Linked DNA regions of Homo sapiens. The protein of the gene in region 1 purifies or fractionates together with the protein of each later gene. This does not show direct contact. Each region holds a gene or a part of one and is shown on either strand. Other genes may lie near its edges.

The links.
Region 2: the proteins of KCNQ3 (region 1) and WDR73 purify together in Homo sapiens (affinity purification with mass spectrometry; one large-scale study listed by BioGRID and IntAct). This does not show direct contact.
Region 3: the proteins of KCNQ3 (region 1) and YME1L1 purify together in Homo sapiens (affinity purification with mass spectrometry, with the first as the bait; one large-scale study listed by BioGRID). This does not show direct contact.
Region 4: the proteins of KCNQ3 (region 1) and AKT2 purify together in Homo sapiens (affinity purification with mass spectrometry; one large-scale study listed by BioGRID and IntAct). This does not show direct contact.
Region 5: the proteins of KCNQ3 (region 1) and CAND2 purify together in Homo sapiens (affinity purification with mass spectrometry, with the first as the bait; one large-scale study listed by BioGRID). This does not show direct contact.
Region 6: the proteins of KCNQ3 (region 1) and IPO9 purify together in Homo sapiens (affinity purification with mass spectrometry, with the first as the bait; one large-scale study listed by BioGRID). This does not show direct contact.
Region 7: the proteins of KCNQ3 (region 1) and TRAPPC9 purify together in Homo sapiens (affinity purification with mass spectrometry; one large-scale study listed by BioGRID and IntAct). This does not show direct contact.

What each region holds. Positions count from the first base shown.
Region 1 is NC_000008.11:132,124,596-132,128,095, reverse strand, and holds part of KCNQ3 (potassium voltage-gated channel subfamily KQT member 3), read left to right. Parts: 3' UTR 1-3,500. UniProt on the Homo sapiens protein: Pore-forming subunit of the voltage-gated potassium (Kv) M-channel which is responsible for the M-current, a key controller of neuronal excitability. M-channel is composed of pore-forming subunits KCNQ2 and KCNQ3 assembled as heterotetramers.
Region 2 is NC_000015.10:84,641,535-84,644,283, forward strand, and holds part of WDR73 (integrator complex assembly factor WDR73), read right to left. Parts: intron 2,190-2,749; coding exon 1,936-2,189; 3' UTR 1-1,935. UniProt on the Homo sapiens protein: Component of a multiprotein complex required for the assembly of the RNA endonuclease module of the integrator complex. Associates with INTS9 and INTS11 in the cytoplasm, stabilizing the INTS9-INTS11 heterodimer and blocking the active site of INTS11.
Region 3 is NC_000010.11:27,130,385-27,133,884, forward strand, and holds part of YME1L1 (ATP-dependent zinc metalloprotease YME1L1), read right to left. Parts: intron 1,558-3,500; coding exon 1,475-1,557; intron 1-1,474. UniProt on the Homo sapiens protein: ATP-dependent metalloprotease that catalyzes the degradation of folded and unfolded proteins with a suitable degron sequence in the mitochondrial intermembrane region.
Region 4 is NC_000019.10:40,243,846-40,247,345, forward strand, and holds part of AKT2 (RAC-beta serine/threonine-protein kinase), read right to left. Parts: intron 1-3,500. UniProt on the Homo sapiens protein: Serine/threonine kinase closely related to AKT1 and AKT3. All 3 enzymes, AKT1, AKT2 and AKT3, are collectively known as AKT kinase.
Region 5 is NC_000003.12:12,813,680-12,817,179, reverse strand, and holds part of CAND2 (cullin-associated NEDD8-dissociated protein 2), read right to left. Parts: intron 2,040-3,500; coding exon 1,747-2,039; intron 1,314-1,746; coding exon 1,172-1,313; intron 807-1,171; coding exon 1-806.
Region 6 is NC_000001.11:201,832,157-201,835,656, reverse strand, and holds part of IPO9 (importin-9), read right to left. Parts: intron 1-3,500. UniProt on the Homo sapiens protein: Nuclear transport receptor that mediates nuclear import of proteins, such as histones, proteasome and actin. Serves as receptor for nuclear localization signals (NLS) in cargo substrates.
Region 7 is NC_000008.11:139,727,225-139,730,484, forward strand, and holds the end of TRAPPC9 (trafficking protein particle complex subunit 9), read right to left. Parts: 3' UTR 501-3,260; downstream 1-500. UniProt on the Homo sapiens protein: Functions as an activator of NF-kappa-B through increased phosphorylation of the IKK complex. May function in neuronal cells differentiation. May play a role in vesicular transport from endoplasmic reticulum to Golgi.

The DNA.
Region 1 (3,500 bases):
CACCCAGTTTATCCAGCAGGAGGGGGATTTCCACTTTTATTGCAAAACATGCTTGCTTGATGCAATGCATTTCAGATCTAGAAAAAAATAATGCAAGCAAGCTACATTTACAGATGTGTAAACAGGCAAAATTTCCAGAACCGTCCAATTTTACTTTTCCAAATTTATGGAACCAACCCAGATTTTTTAAATGAAAATACTAAAACCATATGTAACCGTAAGACAAGCTAAAATGTAAGCAGACAGCCTGGGAAGCACTGCCCTACTGTACAGGTGTGATATTAAGCACAAGCCATCCTCTGGCCTCTTATGAGATGTTGTTATTCTCTGAAAAACTTTGATGGAAAAGGTTTCTGTTAGGCTTAGACTGAATTAGCTAAATGACCATGCCACAGTATTATTGTATCACTCTTCTCACACACCTAGGCACTGGTTGTGGATAGTTGCCATGGTGACAATCAAGATAATCCAGATGACCTAAACAAATGTCTGTATGCAGCTGACACTGCTATTCTCCCTCACAGTCTTGTCAAGAGCCACAGTAGCTATGGCAGACATTTGGTTGATGGTTTCATCATTTCCTAATACGAGAGTCTGGCACTATGTTGGAGAGAGGAATCACTTCCTCAGAGATAGGTTCCTTTCAACTCACATGTCAACAGTTACTGTACAAAAAGCTCAGAATACAGTAATGATTAGAGCTTGACCCCTGACTTTAGGAACTTAGAACCAAAGCCCAAAGTCCCAGGCCAAGGGCAGACATTGTGAGCAGCAGAAGGGTGTTTTTTATGGAGAGCCCCATAAATGGATGGGTGTAGACCTTGAAGTCTGAGATGGGAAATATACCAGAATGCTCAATGCATCAGACATGAAGCCCCACGGGCTTCCATTTGACATGCTGGCAATCTGAAGGACAAAGGGCATGGGTTATTTGGGCCTTTTCCCCACTCCTTCAATATGGCTGAAAGTGCCAGTGGGGATTACAACCTAAGAAACCCTATGCCCCTTCCTGAGGGCTTGATTATTGAATCCTGATCTTCCTGGAATCTTTCACTTGAGATGATCACCTGCCTAACATCCAACATGTTACTATGCTCTTCTTTATGTACATGAGTTACTGGAAACCAACAATAAAGGAGAGTGAGTCATACTCTCCACATATGCGCCAATTAATTTTTTAACTTACTTATTAGTATTCTTGAAGAACTTACTATCTTAAGTATTTTACCAATAGATGATGCATTTTCCAGCAACTCAATGGAGTTCTACCTTAAAGTATTTACCATTGATCCAAAATTGGAGGAACTACCTTAGATTCTTTTAATAACCTAGAAAGGATTGGAGCTTGTATTATTTCCTAAACCATAGGCAGGCAGTCTAGCTTCCCTGCTGGATCATAAGACCAGGACAGCAGAGATTGGGTTTGTATTGATCAGTAGTAGGGAAGTATTGATTGTCTAACATCTAGTAAGTTGTCTTTATCAGTATAGACATAGACAAAATACATGTTTTATGAATGAATAAATAATAAGAACCTTAAGAGCTGTTTTTTTCCCATTTAAGAAAACAAAAAGGAAAAGAGAAAAATGATCTTCTGGAATAACTCTGCTTTGATATTCTCCTTTTGTTCCCCAAAAAATATATTCCAGAAAGGCAAACCAAACCTGCTCAAGTTGCCTATGCACAGACAATCTCAACAATATGGCTCACAGTGAGCAAGCAGAAATTCAGGGTCTGGAATTGAATGTGAGTTATGGGAAGAAACAGTGTGTGCTTTCACAAAGATCCTTTTGTCAGACAAGGGAACAGCATGATAATCCAATGGAACTGGTTAACATGACCCAAGATGACATGACCACAGATATACTAGTCGTTCTGAAACTTGCCCAAGAAATTGCAATCGTTTCAGCAGAACTCCATGAAATATTGACAAATTAATTCCATCATCAAACTAGGAGTGATATTATCAGGTAAAACTATGATCTCATGTATGTATTTGGTCTTTCTGGGTCACAATGTGACATGAAAAATTTTAAAGGTCATATTTTAGCAAGATCAAAATGAATTAGATAAATCAACTTCACAAATGTTAAGCGAAACATGATCCTATTGAGCTGAGAAAGAAGTACTTGAGATCGTTTGAGTTTTGACTATCAAATGTCAGCACAAAAGCAAATATCAAAAGCTTAAGAAAAAAATTATTTCAGGAAAAGAAAAACACATCAAATTGAGAAAGTGTTGTTGAATAACTTTGTTTTTAGAACTGGAAATTTAGGCTTATTAGACATGACATTGATATTACAAAGCCCTAGTTTTCATGAAAACATAACTAGATAACCCCAAGGTGTATAGGTTAAAATGAACTAATTAATCAACAATTATGCATCCTGTGTCTATTTTGTGCAAGGTACTTCCTAGACACTGTAGTTTGAAAGAATAATTTCCTGTAGAAAAACCTAATCTAATAGGACCTACTCATAATTTGGCAAAATCATCCTCATAATTCCATGCTACTGAAATGGGGGTGTAATAAAGAAAAAATCATTTGTTTATTCATTTAACAGGGTTTATTAAGCACCAATATATGCCCAGAACTTTGCAGTGCACTGGAAGTTCAGAGATAAGAAAACCACAGTTTCTGCCATCAAAATGCTAGGAATCTAGAGGTCTCAAACATCAGAGGTCCCTTCAAACTATGTCTACCAGGAAAATAAAATACCTGATTTCATCCCTGCAAACAACTCTATACAGACAGAAATGCTTCCTAGCTTGGAAACTATAGAAAATTGAACATGAAAATGAGAGCAAAGGTTCTACATCAAAATGGCAATGATCCAATCAGCCCAGTCAAGGCTGAGTGGGTTGAATGGGGACTTCGAGTTTGGATTCAATGCTTTGAACTTCATAGCTCCAGAGAAGCTGTGCAAAAAGGGGGGATTCTAGGGAATCTGAGGAAGATTGTTGGAGAAACCAGCTTTCTTCTTGTCTCCTAATCCCTGCTAAGATTGATACCAGTCAAGGAGCTGAGTTACTTTCATTTCATTATGTTGACCAAGAGAAGCTTATGATACAGACTATGACACAGCACCTATTTCAAGAGAAAGATGTTACTCTACTTATGGGAACCTGCAGATCAAATTCTCCTGGGGCAAGAGAAGAAATTTGTTCAGCAGCCTAAGAAGTCAACTGTACTTTGGACAGTGCTGCCAAACACACCCCAGGATTCTCCCACCCCTGTGCTTTCCCAGAAGATGCCACATAGCTGGTATTTGGTTTTCATGAATAACCAAAGATTCTTCTTTGCTTCCTGAACCCCAGGCATCCTTAGGAATTTGCTTCATGTCCTCACTTGTCCTTGAAGGCTTGTTTTTCAGGATGAACTTTTAAAGTCTAAGTTGTTTATATTCAAATCAACCCAATGCTATTGTTGCTGATATTAAACCATTCCAAACTGAGCCAACTGGCCCCTAAACAAGCCAGCAGGCAGCCCCTCACTAATG
Region 2 (2,749 bases), on another chromosome or scaffold:
ATGGAGTCTCACCCTGTCACCCAGGCTGGAATGCAGTGGCACAATCTCGGTTCACTGCAGCCTCTACCTCTCAGGTTCAAGCAATTCTCCTGCCTCACCCTCCTGAGTAGTGGGGATTACAGGTGTGCCACCACCATGCCCGTCTCTAATTTTTATATTTTTAGTAGAGACGGGGTTTCACCATGTTGGCCAGGCTGGTCTTGAACTCCTGACCTCAAGTGATCCACCCACCTTGGCCCCCCACAAAGTGCTGGGATTACAGGCGTGAGCCACTGTGCCTGGTCTATCTTTAAATTCCTATCTGAATTTGTTTAGGTTTTTTAAATAAAAATCTTTCTTTTTTTTTAGAGACAGGGGTTCACCATGGTGCCCAGGCTGATCTCGAACTCCTCCTGGACTCAAGCTATCCTCCCACCTCAGCCTCCCAAAGTACTGGGATTACAGACATGAGCCACATGCTTGACCTGAATTTTAACTGCAGTTAATTATCACTTAACCAGCGAATTCACACAGGAGAAATCCCCTGGCCGGGCGCGGTGGCTCACACCTGTAATCCCAGCTCTTCGGGAGGCCGAGGTGGGTAGATCACAAGGTCAAGAGATCAAGACCATTCTGGCCAACATGGTGAAACTCCGTCTGTACCAAAAATACAAAAATTACCTGGGCATGGTGGTACGTGCCTGTAATCCCAGCTACTTGGCAGGCTGAGGCAGGAGCATTGCTTGAACCCATGAGGTGGAGGTTGCAGTGAGCCGAGATCACGCCACTGCACTCAAGCCTGGGTGACAGAGCAAGACTCCATCTCTACTACAAAAAAAAAAAAAAAAAAAATTCAACCACCTTAGGAAGCCTCTCATTTATGTATTTCTAGCATGTAATTAGTGTTGCACATGGGAAGGGCTAATAGATGCTGACAGAGTGAACAACTTATCTATTTTGTGTGTGTGTGTGTAACAGGGTCTCATTCTGTTGCCCAGGCTGGAATACAGTGGCATGATCACAGCTCACTGCAAACTTCAACTGCCAGGCTCAGGCAACCCTCCCACCTCAGCCTCTTGAATAGCTGGGACTGCAGGCTCATACCACCACAACCAGCTAACTTGTATTTTTAGTAGAGACAAGGTTTCGCCATGTTGCTCAGGCTAGTCTCGAACTCCTGGACTCAAGTGATCCACCTGTCTTGGCTGCCTACATTGCTGGGATTACAGGCATGAGCCACCATGCCCAGCCAAATTTTTTTTTTTTTTTAAGGGAAGGGATCTTGCTATGTTGCCCAGGCTGGTCTCAAACTCCTCAGCTCAAGCAATCTGCCCACCTCAGCCTCTGAAAGTGCTGGGATTACAGGCATGAGCCACCATGTCCAGCACACTTTAATATTCACTATGGGCCCTCAAAAGGAAATGTTTGTGGGGCCACCAAAAGCAAATGTCTCTTGAACCTAGTCACCTGGGGGGACAAGTGTGGGAAAGTGCACCTGTGTTCCCATGAGACCCACTCAAGAGGAGCAGAAATCCTGTTTTGCTATTTCCTTAATTGCTACTAGGGCTGGGATTTTTTCATGTTTATTGGCCCCTCTACATTTTTTTCTTTAAAAAAATTCACAAAGCATGTTTATATTTGTTAGCTCTTTTGATTCTCCCTATGATAGTGTGAAGACAGGGACAAAACGCTACCATTTCACACTCCCAGATCTAACAATAGCTACCAAGTAATTATGCCATGCGTTTCTTCTAACCTTCGCAATATCACTACGAGGTAGTTCTTACTATCCTCATTTTACAGATAAGGAAACTGAGGCTAAGTGACGCTGGCAGACTTGCCCAAGGCCACACAGCTGGTAACAGGGACTGGTAGTCACTTGAGTCCTACATGAGCACCCTTGCTACTACAGCAGCTCCTCCCCTTTCTAGAGGCCTAGATGGAAAGATGCTGGTGTCAGCGGGGGGCACAAAGGTCCACCCAGTCCCACACATGCAGAGAGGCATCATTTGTTGCTGATAACAAAGTCCTTGGTCTGCAGGGATGCCAGGTGTGGGTGGTGACCAAAGGAGCAGGGTCCATCCCATTTCCATCTAGGAAGATGTGACCTCTGTGAGTGAAGAGAGGTTCTACTTGGCTCCGTGTTCCATCTTGGCTCCGTGTTCCATCCCAAGATGTGGCATCATAGACCTGGACTGTACCATCAAAACCTGAGAATACAGAAAAGAGAGGCTTGACAATGAGTCCCTAATTTTATTTTAAAATAATTTTCTTTCTATTTTTAATAGAGATGGGGTTTCACCATGTTGACCAGGATGGTCTTGAACTCCTAGCCTCAAGCGATCCTCCCATCTCAGCCTCCCAAAATGCTGGGATTACAGGCACCCAGCCCCTAAAATACTTTTTATAATTTGTTCTATGGTACCAAAACAGGCTATTGGATGAGGAATCAAGGCACTTAAAAGGCTAACCACGGGCAAGTAGCATCTGCCCTCAGTGTTGGCAGCTGATGACTCCGTGGGGCATGTAACCATGAGCATCCGTTGTGCACCTGTTATGCGTGAGGCTCGAAGGCTAATTCTGGACAAGTATTAGCTCTTTTAATCCTCAGAACTGTATGACACAGATACTGTTATTTTACCCAGGAAACTGAGGCTTAAGAGACTTCTTCAAACCTTTTCAAGTTGCCCCAGAGTCCAGTCCCCTACCTCTGGGTCCCTTTCAGCAGATGGCCTTGTCTCCTACTCGATGGGGGAAACAGAAGCCTTTG
Region 3 (3,500 bases), on another chromosome or scaffold:
GACTTAACATACATATAAATATAATCTCCTATTTTTAATTCTAGCTCAGACCTCTCCCATACCTCCAAAGTGGTATATCCAAGTTACTCAACACTTTCATTCGTATCTCTCACACTTAACATACCTAAAACTAAATTTCTAACCTTTGTCCCCCAGATCTGCTCCACTCACAGCCTTTTAAAACCTCACTAAAGGCCGGGCACCGTGGCTCACGCCTGTAATCCCAGCACTTTGATCTGCGTGGATCACCTGAGGTCAGGAGTTCAAGACCAGCCTGGCTAACATGGTAAAACCCTGTTTCTACTAAAAACACAAAAAATTAGCTGGGCGTGGTGGCTCGTGCCTGTAATCCCAGCTACTCTGGAGGCTGAGGCAGGAGAATCGCTTGAATCTGGGAGGTGGAGGTTGCACTGAGCCGAGATCACGCCATTGCACGCCAGCTTGGGCAACAATAGCGAAACTCCGTCTCAAAAACAAAAACAAAAATCTCAGTAAATGTCAATTCTATCCTTCTAATTGCTGAGACCAAAAATCTTGTGGCTCTTTTTGACTCCTCTTTTCTCTTACACCCTACGTTCCAATAAGAAATCCTATTAGTTCTACTTTCAAAAATGAACAAGTCAGACACCCTATTACTTGAGAGCCTTTGCTCAAACTGTTCCTTTGGTCAGAAACGTTCCTTTCTCAGATAAATGCAGTTTATTCCATCTTCTCCTTCAGATTTTATCTCAAATGTCACCTTCTCCATCAATCACACCTTGAACACTCCATTTAAAACTGTAAGCCTTCTCTCAAAACTCCCAATCCTCTTTACCCTGCTCTACTTTTTCCTCCATACACTTTTATTCTTTTAACATACTCTACTTTTTCTTACATCACATATCAGTGTCCAATTACTGCTTTTAGAGTTTAAACTCTAAGAATGCAGAGATTATTTATTCTATCCCAGCAGCTAAAATAGGGCCTAGCACTTAATACTATTAAATATTTAACAAATTAATCAACTATAAACTAGCATTTATCCATTCTATTCATTCAAGAAATATACATTGTCTAACATGTTTTAGATAGTGGAGTTACAAAGATCAGTAAGAGGTACAGGTAAAGAAGGACCATTTATTAAATATCTACTATGTGTCAAGCACATACATTATCTGTCAGGATCTAAAGTAATTTCTTCAAGGTCTCATAGCTAATAAGTATAAAAATGAATTTCAAACATTAGTCAGCTTGACTCTGAAGTCCACATTCACTCCACTACACCAGGCTGCTCCTTCATAAATTATACTATCCCCTGCCATAAAGCAAGATTTGATCCTTGGCTATTATTATTTATCCCAAAATACTAATGTTTCTAATACTTTTGGACACAATTTTACCTATTCTAGAATACACTGTAGAATCAAATATCGACCTCATATAGAGTATCAATTAGAGGATGTATGAAGAAGGCAAGGCAATCTTCTTAACTTACCCCTTTAACATGTTCAAAGGTGACATTTTTCATCTGGACAGGATCTACTGCAGAATCAAGCCCTGTTGTTGTCCGGAAGCGGACTAAAGGGAAGAAAAGAAATGTTTATATTTGATAGATTAATAACATTCCAATCACCTTGTTTTTTAGATGCAAGAAAGCAAAGCCTAGAAAAATTAAATGTCTAAGTGACCTAACTTCACATATCAAATCAGAGTGAGGAATAGAAACTAGGTCTTCTGGATTTCTTTTTTTTTCTTTTTGACAGAGTCTTGCTCTGTTACCAGGCTGGAGTGCAGCGGCACGATCTTGGCTCACTGCAACCTCAACCTCCCAGGTTCAAGCGATTCTCCTGCCTCAGCCTCCCAAGTAGCTGGGATTACAGGCATGCGCCACCAAACCCGGCTAATTTTGTATTTTTAGCAGAGACAGGGTTTTCCATGTTGGTCAGGCTGGTCTTGAACTCCTGACCTCAGGTGATCCACCCGCCTCAGCCTCCCAAAGTGCTGGGATTACAGGCGTGAGCCACTACGCCCGGCTGGTCTTCTGGATTTCTAAACCATCTTCAAAGAGTAAGTGATTCACGTTAAAAAGACATATTTCGGCTGCTCTGCCTATGGAGTAGCCATTCTTTTATTCCTTTACTTTCTTAATAAACTTGAAAAAATAAAAAATAATAAAGACTGGGCGTGGTGGCTCACACCTGTAATCCCAGCACTTTGGGAGGCTGAGGCGGGCAGATCGCAAGGTGAGGAGATCGAGACCATCTTGGCTAACGGTGAAACGCCGTCTCTACTAAAAACACAAAAAATTAGCTGGGCATGGTGGCGCAAGCCTGTAGTCCCAGCTACTCGGGAGGCTGAGGCAGTGAAATTGCTTGAACCCCAGGAGGAGGAGGTTGCAGCGAGCCAAGATTGCCCCACTGCACTCCAGCCTGGGCAACAGAGCGAGACTCCATCTCAAAAAAAATAAATGAAATAAAATAAAAAAATAAAATAAAATGACCTATTTGTACTTTTCAGTTAATAAAATCAAAAATTATTTTCTACTTCTTATTGTAGTATCTAATGATAGAAATCTTAAATCAAAGTTTCTCAAACTTTGGTGTGAATAAAACTCACTTGAGAAGTATGTTAATTCTCAGGCCACAGCACAGGGCCCAGGAGAATTTTCATTTTTAACAAACACTTCAATTATTCTAATTGGTCACAGGTCTACACTTTGAAACACATTGCCTTAAAGTTAGCAGAAAACATTGACACACATTAATAAAAAATTGAGGCTTAACACATTATTATACTTTTCATGTAGTCTTCTTCCTCTGACAACTGTTATTACTTGCCCTCAAATGACCTATCAATTATGACAACATTAAGTCTGACAAGCAAGACAGAAAAAGTCTGATAGGAGAGTAAAATATTTGAGATCAATTTTGGAGAACTATTACAAGGATTTCTTAAGTCTTTCCCACTCAGGTAGAAACTTCCAAACTAGAGCAGTTATAAATGAGTAAATTGAGCAATTTCTAATTTCCTCAGAAGAAGCCCAAAATACTGTTAAGATAGGCTGAAAAATGAGCTGGCAAAATATGGGGTTAAGGAGAAATGCTTAATAAATCAGGAACATAGAAGCTGGGAAAACAAATTTAAAATAGTAATTCTAGAATGAACACCAATAGTTTTGGCCCACAAAGTATTTTTTAAGAATCTGTACATATCCTTAATATTTAAGAGAATAGGCAACACAGGGTGAAAACTGCACAGTAGTGGAAAAGGTAATTGGAACCACGTAAGTCTGACACTATTGCTTAATTTCAGATAAGCAAACTAAAAAAAAGGGAAACATTTAATGTGATTTTATGAATAAACTGAATTTGTTTATCTTTGAAATAGAAGACTATTTCAGCTTGTATTGCCATTATAAAATTCTTCTACATAATTTTAAAATTAATTAATTAATTTTCCTTTCACCCTGTTGACCAGGATAATTTTTAAATTTTATAATTGGACAGGTATCATTTTCTAAA
Region 4 (3,500 bases), on another chromosome or scaffold:
CAGCCTGGCCAACATAGTAAAACCCAGTCTCTACTAAAAATACAAAAAATTAGCCGGGCGTGGTGACGGGCGCCTGTAATCCCAGCTACTCGGGAGGCTGAGGCAAGAGGATCATTTGAACCCGGGAGGCGGAGGTTGCAGTGAGCCGAGATCGCGCCACTGCACTCCAGCCTGGACAACAGTGCGAGACTCCATCCCAAAATAATAATAAAATAATAATAATAATAATAATAATAATAATAATAATAAAATAAAGAACAATAAACTAGTTCTGTCACTCATGGTTTAGAACTTGCTGAGAAAGAACTGTCTTTGAGCTGGGCTCGGTGGCTCACACCTGCAATCCTGGCACTTTGGGAGACTGAGACGGGACGATGGCTTGCATCCGGAAGTTTGAGACCAGCCTAGGCAACATGGATACCCACTTTGTAGAGACCAAAGATAAAAAATTAGCCAGGTGTGGGGGCACATGCCTGTGGTCTCAGCTACTCAGGGGGCTAAGGTGGGAGAACTGCTTGAGCCCAGGAGGTGGAGGCTGCAGTGAGCCATGATCATACCACTGCAATCAGCTAAAAAAAAAACAAAATAATTTTCTTTGGATACTTACAAACTGTTCTGTCTAATAAGTGAAAATGACCAGAGACCAAAATGAAAAATATATTAGGCTGAATTACACCAAATTGTCCACATCCCCCATTTTTGACCACACTGCAATTAGGTGTTTCAACCCAACGCATTTTGAACCCCCCGTGTATTTTGCTTGTATCTAGAAAATACTCATATGACCAACAAGAAAAATAAAATGTTCACTAAGAATGAGAAAATTCAGAGAGTGTAATCACGCAAATCCCAGTGATTTAAATAAGCCACAGGGAGTGCAGCCAGCCCTTCACAGCATCTTCCAGGATGGCCCCCGCCCCAGGGCAAGTGTCACTGCTCCTGTGTTCCTGAGACACTGGGGCCCCTACCCAAGGTCAGGCAGGGAACAAGTGTGGCTGGGACTGGGCTTCAAAATCCAAGCCGGGACACCCTGCTGGGCTGTATTCCTCCCCAGTCTCGTTTCCTGGTGTACCACGCGAAACTACTTCTATTTCCATCCATCCCACAACGCACCCTCTTCCACATTTTGACACTGCTGGAATGCAGATTAATCTCACAGTTGGGGTCTGTCTTGATTTAACTGGGCACGCCTTTTTCTTGGCACTATATGAAACAGGGTGCCTCCCCAATGACAGCGCCTTCGATTTGATGAAATATCACAGCAGTGTTTAATACACAGGCTGTCGTGAGGTAGAATGCCTGTGAGGCATCTGTGCAATGAGACATTCTGCAGCTGGGGGAAAGATTGAGGCAGGTCTGTATGCTGACTTGGGATGATCTGAGACTTCTTAAGAGAAAAAGGAAGGTGCAGGGATGGGCAAGGTAGCTCACTCATGTAATCCCTGCAATTTAGGAGGCAGAGGCTGGAGGACTGCTTGAGCCCAGGAATTCCAGACCAGCCTAGACAACATAAGAAGACCACGCCTTTATAAAAAATTTCAAAATTAAGGAAGGTGAAGAACAGTATACAGTTCTGTGCTCCTAAGTTAGAAAATAATGAACTTCTGCAGACACATGCTCACATAGGCACAAACATCTCCAGAAGAGAAGTCATGATCCTGGAGCCCTGCCTGCCTCCAAGGGAGGGGAACTGGGAGTCGAAGGAAAGGAACAGCCTCTAATAACAAATGGGAAGCACTTGCTATCATCAACTATCCCTACTCCCACCCATTATGAAGGAGGAACTGGGGCACAGATTGAAAAAACAGATTCCAGAAAAACAGCAGTTGCTCCAGGCTTGGTAGCTGGAATTACAAAAGGCACGCTGCCCTCCCCACCCACTCAGAGACTGGAGTCCCCATAACCCATCTATGTCCACCCCACGGAGGCAGAGATTTCCACCTGCTTTGAACACAGTTCTGCCCCCAGAACTCATGGTGGATACTCAGTAGATACTTGGGTAATGAAAGAGTGAGGCAGCCAAAGTCCAAGTGGCCCCAGGGCCAGGGCGCAGCAGGGCCCAGTGCAGACCCGGGCAGAGCACGCACTGAGCCCTGGTGCACACCCGGGCAGAGCGGTGTTGGCTTCTGCACTCCCTGGCCCAACATCTCAAGCCAGTATTTCTCAACTTGCTTTAACCCATGCCCCCTTAGGAACAAATTACAGCCTAATTCCCAAACCCTACACTAATATTCCTGTTTTTCAAAAAAAAAAAAAAAAAAAAGCAGGGGCCGGGGACAGGGCAGGAGCCCATTCCATGACAGGCTTTTTTCTTTTTTGTTTCTTTTTGTTTTTGGAGACAGAGTCTCGCTTTGCTGCCAGGCTGGAGTGCAGTGGCTCCCAGGTTTAAGCGATTCTCCTGCCTCAGCCTCCAGAGTAGCTGGAACTACAGGCACCCGCCACCATAATTTTTGTATTTTTAGTAGAGACAGGGTTTCACCATGTTGGCCAGGATGGTCTCGATCTCTTGACCTCATGATCTGCCTGCCTCGGTCTCCCCAAGTGCTGGGATTACAGGTGTGAGCTGCTGTGCCCAGCCTTCCATGACATGCTTTATCAGACATAGTTGTCCTCTCACAAATTTTAAATTTTTTTAATGCTGACTCTGAGTAAATGATGGCGGATTGGGAAAAAAAAAATCACAGATCTCCTAAGAGATACAGTGAAGATATTAAAAAGGAAAATATGTCTCTCATATATAAAGATCTTGAGAGACTGTCACGTGAAGATGGCAGATTGCAGACTAAGATGTACAGCGTGGTATCATCTTTGTTTTCAAAGACAGGGGTGGAGAGAACACAGATGGTCCCTCTGTGGAGAGAACCCAAATACATGAAGGATGGCACTGCCACACCACCAGCCCAGAAGCAGCTCTGGGAGGCTACTCCAGATGGGAATCAGGAGCACAGGCCCTGGACCCACCCCAGCTGGGGCTCCAAGAGTGGCTCTGCCACCTGGACCAGCTCAGCCCTCCCAGCTCTCCCCTCCACCAGGGCCTGGGCCTGGGGCTAAGAGGTTGGCGGGCTGTCGGCGCAGAGCACCGCGCGCAGGGCGGGGTGGAAGGGAGGGTGCCGAAGACACTCGCAGGGGCGGGCCTACCCCACCTACCCTGGCTCCCACTGCCCACCCTACAGAAAGCTCCAGAAACCACAGCAATGCAGGAGGTTATCTGGGAGTAACTGGGGCTCGCCTGCTGCCTGACTAGCTTCCGATCCAATTCTAACTGGACCAAAGTTGCAAGGTTGCAGCACTCAGAATTCCAGATGAAAAGCAAGGGCCTCTGTCCAGGATCCTTCTCAAGGGTTTGCAACATGGCGTCTGGGGCAAAGGGGAGCTCCCCATGAAGCTGGGCCTCAAGTATCTTCTAGCCCCCAGAGGAGAGCCCCTGGGTAAACCACGACTGTAAAAATAACAGCACTGAGTGGCTAGCTCCAGACACCACCTCGCTTGATTCTCAAGAG
Region 5 (3,500 bases), on another chromosome or scaffold:
CAACAGGGGCGAACGCAGCAGCCGCAGCAGCTCTGAGAGCACAGGGCCACTGACCTCCACCAAAGAGGCTGGCTGGGCCTGGGTCACTGTGGCAAGGAAGTCCACAGCCAGCTGGGCCACATGCATGTCGCTCTCGTTGACCAGGGCAGGCAGCTCAGCCAGCACGGCCTGCACGGCAGACGGTGGGAGGCTGAGGCCCTGGCTCTGGGCCAGGGCGTCCAGGGCTGCCAGTGTGGCCAGTCGCAAAGCCCGCTGGTTCTTCCGCAGGAATGAGGCCAGAATGTGCAGTGCCTCGGCCAGGATGGGCTGTAGGTCAAGCTGTAGTGGGGATACGGCCACCAGCGTAAGCGCCTTGATGGCGGGCAGCCGGGTGATCTCATTCCGCAGGCGGTCCAGGAGGAGCAGTAACGTGGGCTCCAGGTCATCCCCAAGCCGGTCACCCAGGTGGCCTACAAGGTGGCCCATGCAGGAAATGGCCCGCTCCTTCACCTCCTGGTCCAGGTCAGTGGCACGAAGTCGCGCCAGGGTGACAGCAGACATCTCTCCAACATATGGCTCAGGATCCAGCATCCGAGGCCTGTGCAGCGGCCACAGGGCCCGCACCAGCTCCTGCAGCACCACCAGGGCCTCGGCTGCAATCTTGTAGAAAGAGTCAGCCACACAGGCCATCACAGGTGGCAGGAGGATAGGCAAGTGTGGGTGGAAGGCCTCAGCTGGTTCGGTGCCCAGCAGCCCCTGCAAGAAGGCCAGGGCATCCATCCGGATGGTGGAGGAGCTGGAGCGGTCGGCCAGCGAGAAGATGATGCCTGCAGGGTGAATGCAAAGGTTATGAGGCCACCGCCTCTGATGCAACACGGCCCTCCCTGGAAGCAAGGCTGGGGTACCTACAAGTGCCTGAGCTGGACTGAAGCACCTAAACTCTTCTGCAGAAGTTTCCAAGAAGTCAGCCCTGACCAGTGGCCAGGGCTGAGGGAAACATGTCCAGGGAACTCACTGGAGCCAGCCTTGTTCTCACTGCTGGTAGTGGGAGGCCACTGGAGACTCTTGACCAGGGACTGAGCCTGGGATTGGGTCTCAGACTGTCTCAGGAACTGGGGGCTCAACTCAGGGGTGGGGTCTGGGTTCTGGAAGTGGCCCAGAACAGCAGATACCTGGTTGCAGTCCAGCCTACCTGATACCAGCACAGGCATATGCTCGGCCAGGCTGCCTGGGAGGACACCCGCCAGCTCGGTGAGGAGGCTGAAGCATCCCTGGCGGGCTCTGACGCTCCGATCTTTAAGCTGCCGCTGCAGGGCCTTGACCACAAGGGGCACCTGTGGGCAGGAGGGGGAAGTCAAGGTCAGGGAACACCCAAGAAACCTACCCACCTGCCCACTACCAGGAGGCTTTGCCAGACACATCCCCAGGGAGGATGTCGGCATCAAGATATCTCCCAAGCACTCGTCCCTCACTCTGTGCCAGGCTTTTGGTGACCGCACACAGACCCTTGGAGAGTAGGCAAATTTTCTGCGTCCATTTTACAGGTACAGAGAGACCAAGCAACTTGCTCAAGCTCACTCAGGCAGGCTGGCTGTCACTACTACACTCCAGAAGCCTGGCTGGCTCCCGCCCCCCACCCCAGGGACCCCTTCCCTTCCCTTCCATGGCTGGATGTTCTCCCAGCTGAGTTTCCAAGTCCAGGGACACTAACAGTGAGTGGCTGGGTAGGCAAATCGGGGGTAGGGGTGGAGGTGAAGGCACGCCCACCTGTCCACGTAGCATATGGAGGTTGCTGCCGGTCTGGGTGGGTTCCTCCATGGCCTCCAGCCATCCCTTCGGGGGCTGTGTTTGCCGCAGCAGCACGATGTAAGCAGTGAAGACGTCAGCCTTGACGTTCTCCTCGCGTTCTTTGAAGCGGCGGATGAGCACAGGTGCCAGGGTGCAGTGGAAATCGGGCAGCAGGTCAGGCCGCGAGCTGATCAAGGCTGCGATGCACTTGGCAGCTGCCCGGCGCACCTTCCAGCTCATGTCATCGTCATCGCTGTACTCGTCTTCACTCTCTGGGGCAGGAACAAGACACACGTGGAACCCTCATCTCCCAGGACAGGTCTGTGGCTCGGGGGAGAAGGGACAGGGAGGAGAGAGAGCTGGGCACTGTGCTTCACTTTTTGATGATCAGCATTTATAGATACCCTATGGGGAACATTCCCTACCTTTTAATGGGCATCTACTGAGTGCTACGGATGGGGCTAAGCATGTCAAACCCATAATCTTATTTTAGCTTCATGACGACCTTTTGAGACAGGGATTATTTCCCCATTATAGAGATGAGAAAACTGGGGTTTAGATAGAGGAAGTGGCTTGCCCCAAGTTAAGGAAATACTTGGAGTTAAACTAGGGTCCTCCCCTCTGCCTCCAGACCCTTAATTGTCTGGACTGTACCAGGGAAAAAACAGACTTCCAAGTCTTCATGTAGACTTGGAGAATCAATTTGGGGCACAAAACTCATCTTTTGGCATCAGGTTTGGCTATGTGATGTTTCGTTTACTGGGACTCCAGAAGGGAGAAGGGACAGAGCCTCCCTTTGGCCTCTTCTCTCCCCCGATCTCTGCCTCTCAAGGGTCCTGATTCCAAAGGCTTCCAGGCAGGATTAATAAAGAGGAAATGCTGGGTTTGTGTGGCTTTCTACCTGACAATCTCCCTGAAAGTCAAGGGCTCGTGCAGTCTTTACCATCACCTCAAAAGTGAAGGTACTGCCAAGCTCCATTTTACAGACGATAAGACTAAGACTCAGAGCGGGTGAGACTCTCAGGGCACACAGCGAGGAACAGCAGAGCTGAGATTCAGGTCCACGAGGCCCAGCCCTATCACCTGTGGAGGCACACAGGAGGCTCAGAGGGGGACAGTCTTGCCTGGGAGCACCCCAAGGCACAGGCTCAGAGCCCAGCATGGCCTTGCCCATACCACTCTGTGGACCACTTGGACCCACAGGGTGGTGTCTGGACAGCCACAGTGGGCCACGGCCACCGGGCAGCTCAGCAGCCATCCCCTCTAATGGATCACTGTCACCCCCACAGTAGGCCACCCACGAACACACATCCTTAGCTCTCTATTACTGACAAGTGTCCCACCTCCCTGGCTTGGCATTCAAGGCCCCCGCATGCCTGTCCAATCTCATTTACCATCCCATCTTGTTCCAAGTACCCCATCAGGCTCTAAATCCATCGTCTCCATCGATGCCCTGCCTTCAGGCCTAGGGGCATCTCTGCCCTGGAAATCTGTCTGAATGACAGACAGGACCACAGGCATAGGAGGAAAGAAGCTATCAAGTCCACCCCCATTGAGACATCTTGCTCCCCTGCCAGTGCCTGCCATTCCACCATCAGAGCTTTCCTCTGCTGGGTTAAAGACATTATCTCCTGAAAGCCATTCATAAAAGGGTACACGGTGGCAGTGCAGAGGTGGGGGAGCCTGACAGACCTGGCTCTAAGGCCCAGCTATGCCAATTCCTAGTTGTGTTA
Region 6 (3,500 bases), on another chromosome or scaffold:
TGAGCCAAAGGGCAACACTGCCAAGAGGGCTATATGAAGTTGTTTTCTAAAGCTATTTTTGTTAGGAAATTTAATTTCTCTAGTTCCCTTTCCCATGGTGAAATAAGGACAGTTCATTCTGTTAATCTGGGTTTTCACCCTGACTCTAGATTCTCCTTAATTATACCTTTATTCCTATCCAAAATGGCATCCTTTGACTTCCTAAGAAATCCTCTGCCCTCTTTCATTCTCTAGTCTCATTCTCTTTTAGTCTTTTGCTTCCCTCTCGTTATCCTTGCTCCCCTTTCTCTCTTATCACCCCATATGGCAAAAACATTATCTATCTAAAACTTGGTTTAGAAGGGAAAACCCAAAGGAGAGCATGGAGGATAAAGGATCACTTAAGAAATACATGCTATTGGTCTGAAGGGTCTCCTAGAGAGACAAGACTTGGCAGTACTTTGACAGTCAACTAATAAGAATTGTGAACAGGGATTGTTGGAGAAGGATGCGGTTTTGAGTAGACCCCCTGGACAAGCCCCCTATTTCTCATGGGAGTTGGTAAGCACCACAAAACCACAGCTGAAAGGAAAAAGAAAACTCCACCACTGGCCTTTTTCCGAGCGTGGCCGCCTTCCGCTCGGCTCAGTGCCCGCCACATGCCCAGGAGTGCGTCTGGATCCTTGAGGGGCGCCCTTCGCAGGTGGACAGTGCTTACGCTATACTGCAAAAGAGCCAGAAAAGTGCCCATGAGAACCAGAAAGCAAACTTCCAGCCAGCAGGATCATCTCTCTAGGCATCTAAGATGGGGAAATCAATACAGGTATCTCGGCAGCATCTGAATGCCAGGAAAGGTGAGGGAGAGATAATTTCCCCCCTCCCCTGTTCAACATAATGGTGGTAGAAGGGAAGAAAAATGTATTCTCTGTGACTTATCTACTGGGAACTAGACAAGGCCAAATGATAGGGGAAATGTCATCATTTGTAATAGGCAAAAAAGAAATAAGCAAAGAAGAAAATGTCCTAGGGTCTAAATCTAGTTATGTAAGAAAGTCTGTGCATGCTGGCACGAAGAATTAAAGCTTCTGAATGAAAGCAACCCATTCCACCACTTGGATAATGCCATTCTTAGAGGAAAAGTAGAGAAAGAAGTAGAAAAAGAGGGAAAGAACTTCATTTTAAGATATAAAAAAATAAAGCACGAATACACCAAAAATAAAAGGCTGACATTCTCAAAAGATGGTAATTCTCATGATCTCACCGTAAGTCAGACAAAAACAAAAGAAAAAGAGTTGATGAAGCTGAGTACAGAATATGAGACTTTGACGTAAGAGATCTTCGGTGGTTCATAACCTCTCCAGTCTTTTTAACTACTATGTTTGTAAAGTGCTTAATATGAACCTGCCTATTAAACAAAACAGAATTAGAAAGCATGCTTTAGACTCTTAGCAGTGCAACAAAAAAAAAAAAGAAAAGAAAAGTTTTTTTACTCTAACGAATAAAAAAACTTAAAAAAAATTTTTTTTACCCTATTTAGGTAGAAGTAAATTTCCTACAAACCTGATCAAACTCAAAATCTCAATCCTCCTAAGAAAAATGAAAGGGGCCAGGTGTGGTTGCTCATGCCTATAATCTCAGCACTTTAGGAGGATCACTTGAGGGCAGGAGTTCAAGGCCAGCCTGGTCAACACAGCAAGACCCCATCTCCAGAAAAAAACTAAAAAAATCAGCCAAGTATGGGCATGTGCTTGTAGTCACAGCCACTTGGGAGGCTGAGGTTGGGAGGACTGCGTAAGCCCAGGAGTTAGAAGCTGCAGTAAGCTATGATCACACCACTGCACTCTAGCCTGGGTGACAGAGCAAAACTCTGTATCTTAAAAAAAAGAAAGAAAGAAAAATGAAAGGTTAACAATTATCTGCAGAATACTGTACACCATAATAACTTCCAAACTTTCAAGCAATGTTCTTCTCAATTCAGGATGGGAGTGCTATCTGATGAAGGTGGTTACTGGCATCATCTCCTTATCTAATTAGCCCTGTTAAATAGACTTTAAATATTCAGAGAGGTTTGCTGGGTTTCTTCCAGATTCCAAGTGACTAGCAAAAATAGCAAGCACAGGGGCTCAAGAAAATCATTCCAGCCAGGCGCAGTGGCTCACGCCTGTAATCCTAGCACTTTGGGAGGGCAAGGTGGGTGGATCACCTGAGGTCAGGAGTTCGAGACCAGCCTGGCTAACATGGTGAAACTCCATCTCTACTAAAAATACAAAAATTAGCCTGGCGTGTTGGTACGCGCCTGTAATCCCAGCTACTTGGGAGGCCTAGGCATGAGAATCACTTGAATCTAGGAGGCGGATGTTGCAGTGAGCCGAGATCATGCCAATGCACTCCAGCCTGGGTGACAGAGCGAGACTCTGTCTCAAAAAATAAAATTAAAAAAAAAAAAAAAATCATTCCAGGACACCAGGCTGATGAAGTAACCTATCTTATCCTTTTCAGATTGACACGCTACATGAATCAAATGGATCTCTCACATACACACACTTCCTTGGCTTAAGAGAACAGGTGCCCATTCTGGAAAATGTGATAATTAATTATAGGCAATTTATTTATTTATCAGAAAATATCAGCTGGTACACTAAATGATCAGGACTACTCTAGGCTCCAGCAATCTTTATTTTCTAAGATAACTGCTTCTTAAAATCTCATCTATAGTACAATTTGGTCACAGCATGTCAACTTCTCTTGCCTGTCCTTTTAACAGGGAGTTGACAATTGACCTGTGTCCTTTCCCCATAAATTAGATATTCTTCCATTTAATCTTCAAGACAAGGGATCATCACCTGGTAGCCAAGGAAGGTAACAAATGTTTTTGGCAAAGGGAACGGACCAGTTAATCTTAAAGACCATGTGGGATCAGTCTCCTATGTGATGGACTAATAAACAGCTCACAAAGACAGTGTGGTTATTTGAGAGGACAGAGGGAGGACTAGATCTGGTTGTCACCTGATCCTGGGCCCCATGGAACCAAAAAATGATCAAAAGATTACCAGAACACAAATAATAATAGACACCAAATCCCAGATTTCTCATTAACTTCAAGTTTTAAGAGTGTTTCCGGCCTGGCCGGTTGGCTCATGCCTGTAATCTCAGCATTTTGGGAGGCTGAGGTGGGCAGACTGCTTGAGCTCAGGAGTTCAAGATCAGCCTGGGCAACATGGCTAAACTCCGCCTCTGCTAAAAATACAAAAATTAGCCAGGCATGGTGGTGCATGCCTGTAATCCCAACTACTTGGGAGGCTGAGGCACGAGAATTGCTTGAACCTGGGAGGTGGAGGTTGCAGTGAGCTGAGATCATGCCACTGCACTCCAGCCTGGGCCCTGGACCACAGAGTGAGACTCGGTCTCAAAAAAAAAAAAAGTGTTTCCTAGAATCAGAAAACAAGGTTCCTTCTACCAGGGTAAAACTAAAATGTGGGCTGGGTGCAGTGGCTCACGGCTGTAATCCCAGCACTTTGGGA
Region 7 (3,260 bases), 7.6 Mb from region 1:
TCAAATTGATGCGGAGCAGTCATCTATTCGATTCCCCAGCCAGTGGGCCCTGAGCTTTGTCATCTTTCCTCCAGTTTTGGAAGGCTGAAGACATTGATACTCCAGCTTTGGCAAAACCCCTCAAAGTGGAAGTTGGCATCAGTGCACAGCTCACCTCCCAGGACTTTGCCTACACACAGGTACTGGGGTGAATATTTCTGACTCTCCTGCCGGGTCATGGATGCACTTACAAATGTGTTTTCAGTAAGAGGCTTAGCCTAGACCCTTAGTCTAGATCTCTAGCCCTTCATGTTGAAAGCCTTTTTTGATCAAAATTTATTGTGTCTTAAGACATTGCTTGAGGCCCCAAGAGCCATGTGGTCACATACATCTCTCTCTCTTCCCTGCTTACTGGGATCAGAAATACCTCTTAACAAGTCATCATTGACAATTTCTTGGCTGGTAGGCTCAGAAGCCCCAAATGATGCTTACATGTTTTGAAACCATCTACAGGTCCGGACTTTGCTTGAATACTTCTATTGACAAAGAGCTCACTCCATCAGCATTTCCTGTCCCATTTCAGCACCTGTGTTAGAAAGTTCTTCCTTACATGCTTCATGTTACCTAATACATTAAGCCATGCAGGGGACTAACGGAGCATAGCAATGTGGCCTGTTAAGGGTTCCAGGAGAAGAATGGAATTTCAGGCACATGGCACAGGATATTTCAGGCACAGGACATGTGGATGGAATTAAAAAGAACAGCAATGGGAAGGCTAGGAGAAGGGACCCAGTATTTATTAAGAAGTTGCTATCATGTGCTAAAAAAAAATCTAGGAGGTTAAATCAAATAAACTGATATGAAAGTGTCCATGAAATAAGTATTTTTATCTCTATTTATTCAGATGAAAAAAAATCAAGGCTTAATTTAAGTAACTTGTCCAAGGTCAAGGAGTTGACAAGTGGCTGAGCTGGAGTTCAGCATCTCAGACATCTTCCTTTGAATCCTTGCCTTCCTTGTGAATTTCAGATGACGGAGCATGACGGCTGCATGATTATGGGGTCACCGGGCCTGTCCTGGCCCTGAGGGACCAAGGATCAGAAGGGCAGAACCAACTCGCTCAGCTAGTGAAGTGCAATGGACATGATCTGTTCCTGGCTTACCCTCCGCTGGCCTTCAGGAGGTTTCTGAATGCACCAGGGGCCTAGAGAAGCAGCAACTGCTGGACTGTATTGCCAGGTAGCCAGTAGCGTGGGGCCCTGGAAGAGGCTGGAGGATACTGCGCTGTCACTGAGACACCTGCCCCAGGTCCTCCATCTCAGCCACTGCCCACAAACACAGCTCCACAGCCAGAAAGACCCAGCCACAGAAATGCCAGCAAACAACACCCCTGGCTCCCCACATCCCACGGTAAAGCTCCAAACGCTTGGAGCACACACAAGGCCTGACTCCAGGTCACCTTCTCTACTGGGACAGAAAGGGTGCCCTGGGGGTGGGGAAGGGCCTGGGGCTGGCAGAGCCAGGCTGTATTTGGGTCATTTTCCAGGAGGCCTGGGTTATTTCTAACACCCCCTCCTCCAAGAAGACAACTTTGCCTCCTGCCCCTTGAGGTTCTTCCTTCTTGTGGCATCCAGCATTTTCTCTGGTAACTGTTGTGGGTATTTTTTGCAGTTTGGGAAACTAAAAAATATAGAAAACTGCAAGAAATAATTACAGTCACCAATATGCTTGCCACTCAGAATCAAACACTGCCAGAGTTTTCCATATTGGCTTTTCTAGGCTTCTATATGCATCTATATCTAATCTGGATCTGTGGCTGGATCTATATCTGTAGCTATGTGTGTACCTGTATCTTGATCTATTGTGCTTTTGAAAGGAAAGTACGTACTCAAGTCCCCGGTGACCAGCACCCTCATGCTGACATCAGATGTCAAATGCAACTCCAGTTCAGGTCACTCTTCTACAGGGGATGTGTATCCTTTCTACCTTTTAAACATGTTGTTATAGACACGTTCTGAGGCATAGAAAATTTATAATTTGGGGGGACATTGTCTACACAAGTGAGGTTGGGCTGAGCCCATCATCCTGCAATGTGTTGTTTCATTCAATGGCGTATTTTTGGGCTCTGTTGAGGTTGACACACATGGATGCTGTTTGTTCCATTCAGAAACAGCCCAGGTGGCCAGGCCCTCAACTACGCTGAGGCATCCTGAACGGAAGGGCTGAAGAGACCGCCCTGGGGTCTCCACCCCCTACTGCAGCCAGACCTTCTGGGGCTGCCTTCCCTGGGGAGCCTCGAGCAGATGCTGAATGAGCTCCAGGAACTGAGGGCCACTGGACACCCGCCCCCACATGCCCCCAGCCCACACCACATCACAGTGTGCTCCCATCATTCACTGAGCGACAACAGGAGGCCACAGATGGAACAAAAAATTTGTTCCTTAGGCCGGAGGCCACAGGGTGACCTTGCTCCCAGCGAGGGAGGTTTGGGCCTGGGACTTCAGGTCCTCAGGAAGTTCCCTCAGCCCCGCAGGCCTCCTGATGCCAACATGACTCTGCCCCATGGGAGGCCAGGGCAGCCACTTCCTGGCTCTGCCTGTTTGGCCAACTGGCCTTTAGGAAGCCCCGCTCTCTGTCCCCCAATACTCCATGGGAGTTTCAGTGCCCAACGGGCACCTGACGAGCCTGGTATCTGCTGGGGACCAAGGGCTGTTTATCCTCCCTGGGACCTGGGGAGCTAAGGGTCAACACAGCCAGAAGCCTGCCCCCAGAACAGGACTCTTGTGGGTAGTGTAGACACACCCCAGCTCTGGCCCTCAAGGGAGATGTGAGCCGTGTGCTTTCTCTCTCCGGTCCTCCCTGAGGAACGCAGGGCCAGCTGCCCACTGTGGCGGCAGCTCGGGCCCAGTCACACTCCTTCACTGGTGATCTCCCTCCCCTGCAGGCCTCCTTCCACCTCCCAGACAAGCTGCTGGTGACCAGATTCCTGTCTCAGCGTTTGCTTATGTGAGATCTCTAACTCAGAACCCGTCCCTTCCTGGGTCCGGCTTCTGCTGGGAAGCCAGCCACCTGAGGTGGGGGCTGACGGGCTGGGTGGGGGCCCCGGACTGCACTGGGCTAGCAGATGCAGGGAGGCAGGGAGGGGGAGGCAGGCCATTTATTGAAGAACTGCTTGCAGACATGGACACACACAGCCATGGTAACCAGACGCCACCCTGGGGCCAGGGAGCACCCAGAAACAGCCCTGGGCTGCCAGCCCAGGCCTGGACATTTGCCCACCA